2 linked regions of the Homo sapiens genome follow. The protein of the gene in region 1 purifies or fractionates together with the protein of each later gene. This does not show direct contact. Each region holds a gene or a part of one and is shown on either strand. Other genes may lie near its edges.

Region 1 (5,416 bases):
GTTTTCCAACACAGAAGAGAAGAAAGCATTCCAAAAGAGCAGACATCATGTGCAAAAGCCACAGGCCTGGTGGTGCAGGTGTGTTTCAGTCCCTTCAGGGAAACTCAGAAGGCACGGGAGTGTCTCTTCCCTGAGAGGAGGATGTTACCAGCGGGGAAATATGGCCCAGAGAGAGACAGCGACCAGCCCAAGGTCACACACCAAAACTGTCGCAGGGTCAAAATCAGCTCTGTCCTCCTGCCTCCAAGCCAGGCTCAGGCTGCGGTCCCAGCCATGCTCAGCCACCCTTCCCACCCCCACTCTCCTTTCCCGCTTTTCACCTCTTCTTCTGCCCATCTTTGGTTTCAGTTCTTATTCCCGTCTGCACGCAGCCTTTCTTTCTTAATGACAAACACAGCTTCCCCAAGCTGGCCAGTTGGGGAAGTGGCCAGGGGCAGGGGGATTTGTTTCTTTTCCTGGTGGCTCTGAGGAGCAAGCAACAGGTTGAGCTAAAAGAATGGGGGCAGGGGCTGGAGGATGGAAATCAGGGAAGATGGGGACAATGGGGTCAGTATTGAACATGGCTGGGCAATAAGGATGGCGGTACCAGAGGGGATGCGGTGAAAACAGTGCACCAGGTGTCACCTGGGAGGCACTGGCCATGGTGACCATGTGAGGCGGGGAGTGGCTGTTGGGATGTTGTTGGAGTTGGCGTGGTGATGACAGTGATGATCAGAGATGCTGTTGGTGATGTTGGTGACAGTGATGGGGGTGACGGCAATGGGGACATCAGGATAGGATGGTGATAAGGAATATCATGTGGATGGTGGTGATGACACAAGAACCCCCGATTCTGGGGTTCAAAGACCAGTCCCTTCTGCAGGAGAGCAGGCCCACTCTCTCTCACTCCCTGAGGCCCAGGACCCACCGTCTCAGAAGCAGGCAGGCGGAGACCCACCATCTGAGATTTTCAGGGAGGTAAAGGTTATAGAGAAAGGACCCAGCCGTCAGTGAGCACACACCCGTGCCAGCCAGAGTGTGGACACTTTCCTATCCGTTTACTTCATTGGCTCCTCCTACCAAATGTGCGAGCCCAGGACAGAGGCTGCACAAGAAGACAGGCCCGGGCTTGTCTTCAACCCTTCCCAACAGACAATGCAGTTTGCCATATGGGTCCCAAGTGCCAGAGCCCTCCCTTGCCCCTCCCCCTCAGGGCTGCTCCACCCTGACCCTGTGTCCTACAGCCTCACACTTCTGCCATCATCATTATTATTATGGCCCCTCCCTGAAGCTCAGTCCCCTCAACCTCACCTGCCCACCCTGATTTCCCTGGGTTGCCTGGGAGGAGGATGTGAGAAGGGAGTCAGATGTGTCACCATCAAGAGGAAGCTCCCCTTCCCCACCCTGTGCTTCTGGTCAGAGCTTATGAGGGCTCAGTGGGGGCCAGCCCCCCAAGAGCACTATCTCCCCAACCACCTCTCCAGCCAGCCCAGATACCACCAGACGCCCCCATTCCTGGGGCCACGCACTCCGCAGCAGCCCGGCCTGGCTGCCTGCAGCTCCCCAGAGCCTGGCTTCTCTCTCCTCTTCACTCTTCCGCAGTTCTCGTCCTCACCCGCCGCCTCCACCTCATCCCCTCCTCCCTCCACTGGGCTCTGGGGCTCACAGACCTCAGTGAGAACCCCAGTGCAGCCGCTGATCCCCTGTGGGATCCTGGCCTGGCCATGTTACTTCATCTGTAACATTTCCTCATCTGTAGAAGGGAGAGAAGAATCCATCCACCTCCTGGAGTGGGTGTGAGAAGTAAATCATTGAAGACAGTGATTCAGAAAGATCAACTGAGCAGCACAGGTGCCTGTGTGTGGACACCCAGCACGGAGCCTGGTGGCCATGGCTGCCTTATTTGTAACAGCCCCAAGCTGGAATCAATCCAAATGTTATTTTGCAGGAAAACAGGCAAATGCATTGTGGTAGATTCATACAATGGAGTATACACAGCAATGGAAAAAATGAGTTAGCTACCCGCAACCACACAGACGAAGCTCCCAAACATAACGTTGGGAGAAAGAAGTGCTCACAAAAGAACACGCGCTGCAGAATTTCATTTCTACGTAATTCTACAGATGTATGTATTATAGAACTACATAGACAGGCAGAAGTCAGTGGGGGCGGGGCAGTGGCGAGGCGGGGGCTCTAGGGGCCTCTGGGTGCTGGTCTGATTTCTTAGTTTGGGTGGAGGTCACATGGGTGTGTTCACCTTGTAGAAGCCCACCAAGGTGTGCACTTAAGATAGCTGTGCTTTTCTATAGGTAAATTATACATCAAGAAAAGGTTTGCAAAAATCAAATAGAGATTGGCTGGCACCTCCTGTGCCAGGTTCCACGGGATCATGAAGATGAATCAGGCTGGGTCAAGACCCAAACGAGCATCCAGGCCAGAGGGCACGACTCCCAGGGACCCAGCACACAGGGCTCTGGGTCAACACCCAGAGCTCAGGGTCCAACCGTAGGGGTCAGGGCGGGCTTCTCAGAGGAGGTGGATCTTGAAGAAGATTCCCCGAAAGAGCAATGGAAAAAGTGTTCCAGGCAGAGGAAAGGGCATGAGCAGAGGCCAGTGTGCATGAGACGCATTCAGGAAACGGCAAGACGTTCCTCTTAGTAAACTGTGATTTGGCGTCATCCATGTGCTGAATACGCAGCAGGCCTCAGTAAATGGCAGCAGTTGGCTGGGGGAACACACGGATCCACCGGTTTGGCAGGGGTGGGGCCTCTGGGGTTAGAGAGAAAGGGGAAAGAGCATGCAGGAGATGTGACGGCTCATGCAAAACCTAGAGAACCTAGACTCGGACGGCTCAGATGGCGCTGGAGGAGGTTGTCACCTGCAGCACAGGAAGTGCTGTGACTGGGCGCTAGCAGCTAACTTTGCCCCAAAGGCAAACAGTACCAGTGAATCCCAGCAGCAGAGATATTCTGGCTGGTGGTAGCTTATCAAATCTCCCTTTAGGAGCAGCCAGTGGGGGGCTCAGAGTTGGCCTCCAGGTATGACACAAGGCCCTGTCATTCTCCACTTCCTAGATATCTGGGGAAGCACCCTCCACTCCCCAAACGATTCCCTAAAACCATCACTTCTCCCTTTATCTTCAGAGCAAAGACCCACAATAGTGATAATAAGTATTGATACTATTATTGTTGTGCATTTATTAGACGCCAGGTCCTCTTCTGAACTTATACAGTCGGCCCTCTGTATCACGGGCTCTGCATCTGAGTATTTTCAATCTGCAATCCACGATGTGGAACCTGCGGATAGGGAGGGCCGACTGACCATACACTCTCTCGTGTCAACCTCGCGCCAGTCTTGAGAGACAGGTTCTAACATGAGTCCCATATTTTTCTGATTTTGCAGGTAAAATTGAAATCAGCTCTTTACACATGGGCTCTGTGCTTCTCAGAACAAGGCTCTGGGGATGGCAGAGCTGACCCCCTCCCCCATCCCATGGCTGCCAGGAAGGCTGCCTTCCCTGCCTCCACCTGGAGCAGACACCTGGGCTCGGGTTCTTTATCTAACACAGGCTGCAGAGTCACTTGCCCTCCTGAGCCTGTTTCCTCATCTGTAAAATGGAGGCCCCCGTGGCAGCTGCCATTTTTCCGGTGCCACAAATGGTAGTTACTGAATCCCACTTGACCAGGGAGGAAATTGAGGCTGGGGGACGGGTGCCTTGTCCCAAGCAGCCCCTGTGCAGGGCTGAGGCAGTGCAGCTCATGGCTTTGCTTCCTGCCTCATTAGGGGGTGCTTTGTGCCACTTCCCTTGGCAGGGTGGGGTCCCCTGGGAAACCAACGCTCGCCTCACAGTGAGCTCAGAGCGAAGTCCTGGTTCCAGGCTGATGCTCTAGGCTCAAAATAAAAGCCTCACTTCCTGGAGGCCTCGGGGCCAGGTTGGCAACAGAGAAGTCTCGGCCAGGCCAGGCTAGGCCCTTCAGCCACTCTCTGGGTGGGATGGGCCATGGGGGCCTCCTGCTTTTAGAAGCTGGGGTTCACACCCCTGAGGTGAGGAGAACAACTCAGTTCTGACACTGAGGAGGGGCTACAACTCCCACCCTGCCCCCACCGGCCTCCTCACCCCTCCGTGAAGCGCACAGAGCTGCAGTGGCAGAGAACGTGGCCTCTCTGTCCAGCCCAGGGGCACTGGACATAAAGGTGGCAAGTTCTAACAGATTCTCACCCAGGGTTTTCCCCACCTGGCAGTTTGGACCCATTTTTCAACCCCAAACAGATGAACTTTCAACAGAGGAGTGGGGCCAGGCACTATGGCCCACGCCTATAATCCCAGCACTTTGGGAGGCTGAGGCTGGTGGATCACTTGAGGTCAGGAGTTCAAGACCAGCCTGGCCAACATGGTGAAACCCCATCTCTCCTAACGATACAAAACTTAGCCGGGCATGATGGCACACACCTGTGATTCCAGCTACTTGGGAGGCTGAGGCACAAGAATCACTTGAACCCGGGAGGCAGAGGTTGCAGTGAGCCAGGATCACGCCACTGCACTCCAGCCTGGGTGATAGAGCAAGACTCAGTCTCAAAAAAAAGGGGCGGGGGGCCTTGTGTTCTTCTTCCACAGCCCACTTCAGGCACTCACCTGCTAGCCCTCCACCCGGCTTCGCTAGGGTCTCCTCCAAATGATCACTTTTGAGGCAGGGACCACTGGCCCCATTTACAGATGAGGAAGGCAAGGCTCAGATAACAAAGGTGCCCGCCTGCTCAAGTCACACTGCTGGTAAGTAATGGAGATGGGCCTGTGTTCCTTTCAATCACAAATCACTGCCCCCAAAGTGGAGCAGAGAAAAGAGCCCCAGGAGTTCTAAGGAGGACAAATCAGGAGAGCTTCCTGGAGGAGGAAGCTTCCCGTAAACTGGACCATAAAGAAGAAATGAATGGTGGGAGGCTGGATGAGGGCAGGGCCTCCCAGACAGACACACCACCCCAGCCATGGGGCAGGGAAGGAACTCATTTGCCCACTTTCTGGATCATTCCACACACCTGTGTGCCAGCAGGGGGACCTGAAGCAAGCTCCTGCCCCATCTCTCCATGTGTCCTGGAGCAAGTAAGGGGCCCTGCTGGACCTGTTTTCCCATCTGCAAAATGAGCTGATAGGCCGAAGAGAGATCCATCTTCTTAGCTCTGAAGCTTGTAAAAGCAAAGGACTCGGGCAGGTCCCACCCCTGGGGACCTCTCCACCCTCCTCCCCGACACACCTCGTGGCCACCCCTCCTAACCCAGCTTGACAAACCTGCTAGGTCTCTGAAGCACTGCAGGGTCCTTCCCCTCCAAGCCTGTGTCATGCTACTCCCCCCGCCCAGCGTGACCTCTTTTCCAAGGTGCCCAAGCAAAGCCCTACTCATCCTTAAGACTCAGACCTCCTCCAAGAAGCTATTCCAGAATC
Region 2 (5,416 bases), on another chromosome or scaffold:
AGCTCCAAGTGACAAAGTATAAGGGGCTGACAGAAAATCTTATACTCTGTCTCTGTTCAGCATGTACCAGAGACTGAAGTTACCTTTGATGAATTTTATTCTACTGACTAAAAGCTTAAGTTTCCTATTTTACAGCTAACACAGATATAAATAATACACACTTTATTCTGTAACTGTAATTTGTTCAGATAATATAGCAGTTAGTAATTGAGTATGTTAATTCTGATATAGAAATTCCCCATTTTGTGTGATTCTACTTGGGTGAACTATAGCATGCACACATGAAGGAGCAATACCTTCTTAGATTGGATGCCTGGGATTAGCCTCACTGTGTGGGAAAGAAGCTAAGGAACAAAAAGGAAGATGGCCTCACTTCAGTCAAGCAGAGAACAGAAATGGCAAATAACTAAACCAACTGAAACCAAATATGACATTCTTAACATAGTTTTGAGTGATATCTAGGCATATCTTTGTGGAACCATTTTGTCATGCTGGTATTTTCTAACCAATCATGCTCCTGGACACAGGACATGCTGACTTAAAATATGTTTATTGAAAACACAGCATAAAAATTTTAAATAGAAAAAAATCTTTCAAAGAAATATTAATTTGTTAACAATTTTACTGAAATAATTCTATATGTACATAACCAATGTAAAAATGTATAGGGAATTTATGGAGTGCATATATAGAGAAATTTAAGATTACCTGACTTACCTCACAAGAAGATAAAATGTCATTATTTGTTTTGGGAGTGGATGAGGTCTTTGGGATTAGTATTTCAGGAGGAGAAGAAAAAAGACTTAATGTTGAGGCTTGAGGTCCATATTCTCCTGAAGCTTCTATAAGTGATGTACATGACAGATTTTCTGGCTGAATGTTGTCGGATTTTTGTCTTATGAATGCTATCTCCCAAGCAGATTCTAACCTAGTACTAAAAAGAAATCACTTTATGGATATGCTATGAATATAGTACAACTGAAATCCAAGATAATGTTTCAGATGTTATTAAAAAATACTTATTATAAAGTACTTAATACATCTTAAATTACTGCTTTCAAGGAGACATTCTAAATGACTCATTCTATCTCATGGATAGTATAGTTACCTCAACTTGGCTCCGGTAATTATGCTTTTTGCTTCTTCAAATGATACACCAATCATAGATTCCTTGTTGACTGAGACAAGTTGATCTCCTGGCTTCAAACGACCATCCTAACAAAAACAGTAACATTTATAAAGGAACTAATGAGGTATTTAAAAAAAAATTAATTGATGTAATTAAAGCAATGAAAAGTTTTCGTGAAGAATGCCTTCAAAAAGAGTAAAAAGTAAAATCTTAGACAACCTCAGTAGCAAAATCTCTTGATTAAAGTCTGGTTTGGTAACATATATTATGAGTAAAATGGAATGGTTCATGTATTGCATGAATAAATTTACGTGGTAAAGAATTCTTAATATGGTAGGTAGGACATAGGCCAGTATACCAGGAAAAGGGACCTGTTTTAAAAACTGAGCACTATGGGGCTGATAAAGCTCTGACTCTGTGATAAAGTGGGCCAAATAACTGTGGGATATTTCACAATACAAAACTCATTTATTTTATTTTCTCTGCATTCCTACATATGTCCTCCCACCAAACTGTTCAATGTGTGTGTGGATTTATCCCACATTGAGATTTTTAAAACTTTAGTCAAGGGTTTTTAAAAAAAAAAAATTAAATTTTCAAAATTTTTTGTAGAGATGAGGTCTCATTACATTGCCCAGGCTGGTCTCAAACTCCTGGGCTCAAGCAATCTTCCCACCTTGGCCTCCCAAAGTGCTCGGATTACAGGTGTGAGCCACTGCGCCTGGCCAAGGATTTTAATTATATTGATCCTACCCATATTTCAGCATAATCTTTTTTACTATACCTGCTATCCCCCTATGATTAAGGCCTAGTTGGCTGTGCATATATTGTTAGCCATATCCTGCTAATAATGACAATTCTAACTGGCTGCCTGGTGTTGCCTTTGCTAAGGCCTGGCTTGCTCACAGCTAGCCTAACTGAGTAAGACAGAGCATATCAGGAACAAGAGTTAATGTGGTTGTTAGATATGTTAGATAAGTTTCCCAGTTTTTGTCTTTTCTTTTCATTCAAACTAGAAAATAAAAATAAGCTTTCTTCTTTTACAGTTCCTAAGGTATTTCCCTATTTATCATTAATTAGTACAGTGGTAGAAACCATTATTTTTATAACTACAGAAAAAGCTTATATGGTTAAAAAGGGAGATTTTCACCTTGATGGTACTTAAGTAACTTCCACAAATTCAAGAAAACATCTTTCTTTAAAGTCTTATCTACTAAAATATATCCCTTGGATACTGATCTTTGATCTAAGCTGTATTATTTGTAATAATGGTGATTCACAGTTATTTTACTCCTAAATAACAACAGGTATTATTATTTTTTAAAAAGACATGAAGTACTATCTCTTTCACTGACTAAAGAATATATAGGAAAACAACAAAATTGACATAAAACATTCATGAAAGGATTTTATAGAAACATATCTCAAATAGTGTGTAAAAGATTATATAATCTAGATGCATAATGACCCTATCCTACTGAAATGTAAACATTATTTAAAATACTTAAGCCAAAAGAGTCAACTTAATTTTTAAAAATATATAAGCCAGGCACGGTGGCTCACATCTGTACACCCAACACTTTGAGAGGCTGAGGCAGAAAGATTGCTTGAGCCCAGGAGTTCAAGACCAGCCTGGGCAACATAGTTAGACCCCATCTTTCAAAAAAAAAAAAAAAAAATAGCTGGCACATGTCTGTAGTCTCAGTTACTCAGGAGGCTAAAGTGGGAGGATCACTTGAGCCCAGGAGGTCAAGGTCATGACTACGCCACTGCTCTCCAGCCTGGGCAATGAAGCAAAAATCTGTCTCAAAAAAAATATATATATATATAAAATATATAAAATATATATATATTTATATTATATAATATATATATTTATATTATATATATTTATGTTATATATATAATTTAAAAAAAATTTTTGATTTTATGTAAATATGTGATTAAACATAGTTAGCAAAGTCAGACAACATAACATGCAGTGTTAGTACAGAAAAAAAGTTCACATGAAGGCAATTTAGCCCATCTTGTATTAAAGTACACTGATGTATAGAAGCTGCATTTTCTGGCAGGAAGGGAGTCAGAAAAGAGAAGAAGAAGAATGCCTTCTGACTATGACTTCTGGTGTTTACATATTTTTTCTTTCTAAAAAGTATTCATAGCAGTTAGTTTTTTTCTTTGCCTCCTAGAATAAGATCTTAGCTGATCATGTGAATTTCTGAACCTGTTTAAAAGTCAGAACCTGCAAATGAAAACAAAGCTATTTTTGTAAGTCTGGCATTCGAGTGCATTCTGCCCCAGATGGATTAATGTATATGTGAAGATACTAACTTCAGAGATATGTTGAGACCTCTTCCACACAGTCTAGATTCCAATTCAGCAGTTACAGAGCAACTACCTGACATGGGAGGCAATGTGCCAAGCACTTTCATATGCTGAACTTCAGATCTGAATTCTTTCACATTGACATTCATGTAGATGTTGAAATAATAATATATTCCTGACCACATAAACACTTCTGTTAAAAACGACCAGTACTATTCATTTCTATATTGACTTTGGTATATAGTTTTCTAAATAATACATTTCAATATTATGAGAAACCATCTATACAGCCTAATTCTGACTTAACTAACTCATTATACCTAATACTAAGGAATAGTCCTTCTGTAAGCCTTAAGATTCCTTTCCTGTACTTTTACAAGATGTAGACTGATGGTGACCTTCTTTTAACTCCAGTTATTACTGTGAACTGAGGCAAGTTGTTCAGCTTTTATGAACCTCTATTTTCTTAGCTGTAGAATGGGGATAAATATATGTAACACAAGGTTGCTATAAGAATTAAGTAACATATGTAAATTATAGCACATTATACGTGTTAAATAAGATGAAGTGAATGAGACTTCCATATCTGTTGTGGACAATTTTCATACTGATAGCAAATTTAATTATATTACTCATTAGATTGAGAACCTTTGATGGCTGCCAACTGGTAGGAAAAGTTGAAACTCCTCAACATCCCAAACCCAGCACAACAAATTTACTGCAACTTACTTTTTCTAGCTTCATCATCCACCTTCCACACCAGCATATTCTTCATTCTACTCTCAGAGAATGTGCCTCAAACCAGCCATGGTCTTTTGAACCTCAATGTTTTCACACATATGAATTCCCATCTAGAATGCCACCATCCACCCTGCCACTTCTCTGCAATAAACTCTGACTTAAACTTCACAGCCCAATTCAAACACTATCTCTGCTGGAAGTTTTCTCTAGTTGCCCAGGATTTACTTAATCGTTGTGTCTTTTTGCTCAAAAAGCACTTTTACTTACCTAAAGGATTGCACTTACTCTGTATGGTCCTTATGTTTACATATCTGCTTTTCCCTGCCCTCACATTAGAATATACTAAATCAGCAACTCCCAGTCTAGGGGCAATGATTCTTTTAGTGGGCCAGAATCACCAATTCTTTCATTAGGCATAACTAGAACTCTGTCCTTTTCATGGTTATTTCCCTGGTACAGTGCTAGGTACACAGTAAGTCCACAATAGGTTAAAGGGGGCCAAGAAACAGTCTGAGGAAATTAAGGTAGCTATGACAAAAATAATAATGGCAAAGGAATAAAGAGAGTGACACTGCAAAGCGAACCATCTTGGCTGCTACTTCTTCAGCTCCCACCAGTGGGACTGGTTTCTTCATAGTTTGCCATCCAGAGGCCTGATCCTGATATTTATCTAAAAGCCTTAGCCCTGGTTCCAGTGCTATGCTCCGCATGAAAACAGATTTCCTCTGAAAGTTAAATATGTCCTACTTCAATGCCACAAATTACATGATGACACTGACTGTGAGACCTATAATTTCAGAGATAGAAGAGGAAAAAATACGTACATACACACACTCATAAGTATATTACATACCGATATATGCATGTTATATATATGTGTGTGTGCATGCATAGCTTATATGTATATGTTTTAATGTATATCTTAGAACCAACTGAAGAAAATATGAAATATACTATCAGATTTGAAGAGAGGATTTTGATTTCTGTCTGCTTTCCCTATGTTACCAGCAACAAAAGAAAGAAATAAAAATGAACATTTGAGAACTTTAAAGTGTTGTCGGAAATCTGACACAAAGGCCCAAGGAGGAAGTACCTTGGTGTGGAGCCCAAATGGTGCCAGTGGAAGGGTAAATAAGCAGATCAGTAATCCTCAGAAATGTGAGAAAATGACTACGGGACCGTTCATTCATAAATTTAAATTGAGCAAGTATGTATGTGTCA

Evidence for each region. Proteins that work in one complex are often made in the same cells at the same time.
Region 2: the proteins of LAPTM5 (region 1) and STXBP4 purify together in Homo sapiens (affinity purification with mass spectrometry; one large-scale study listed by BioGRID and IntAct). This does not show direct contact.

Annotation. Positions count from the first base shown.
Region 1 is NC_000001.11:30,747,185-30,752,600, forward strand, and holds part of LAPTM5 (lysosomal-associated transmembrane protein 5), read right to left. Parts: intron 5,177-5,416; exon of another isoform or gene 3,160-5,176; intron 2,749-3,159; exon of another isoform or gene 1-2,748. UniProt on the Homo sapiens protein: May have a special functional role during embryogenesis and in adult hematopoietic cells.
Region 2 is NC_000017.11:54,995,144-55,000,559, reverse strand, and holds part of STXBP4 (syntaxin-binding protein 4), read right to left. Parts: intron 1,216-5,416; coding exon 1,109-1,215; intron 935-1,108; coding exon of another isoform or gene 929-934; coding exon 718-928; intron 345-717; coding exon of another isoform or gene 297-344; intron 1-296. UniProt on the Homo sapiens protein: Plays a role in the translocation of transport vesicles from the cytoplasm to the plasma membrane. Inhibits the translocation of SLC2A4 from intracellular vesicles to the plasma membrane by STX4A binding and preventing the interaction between STX4A and VAMP2.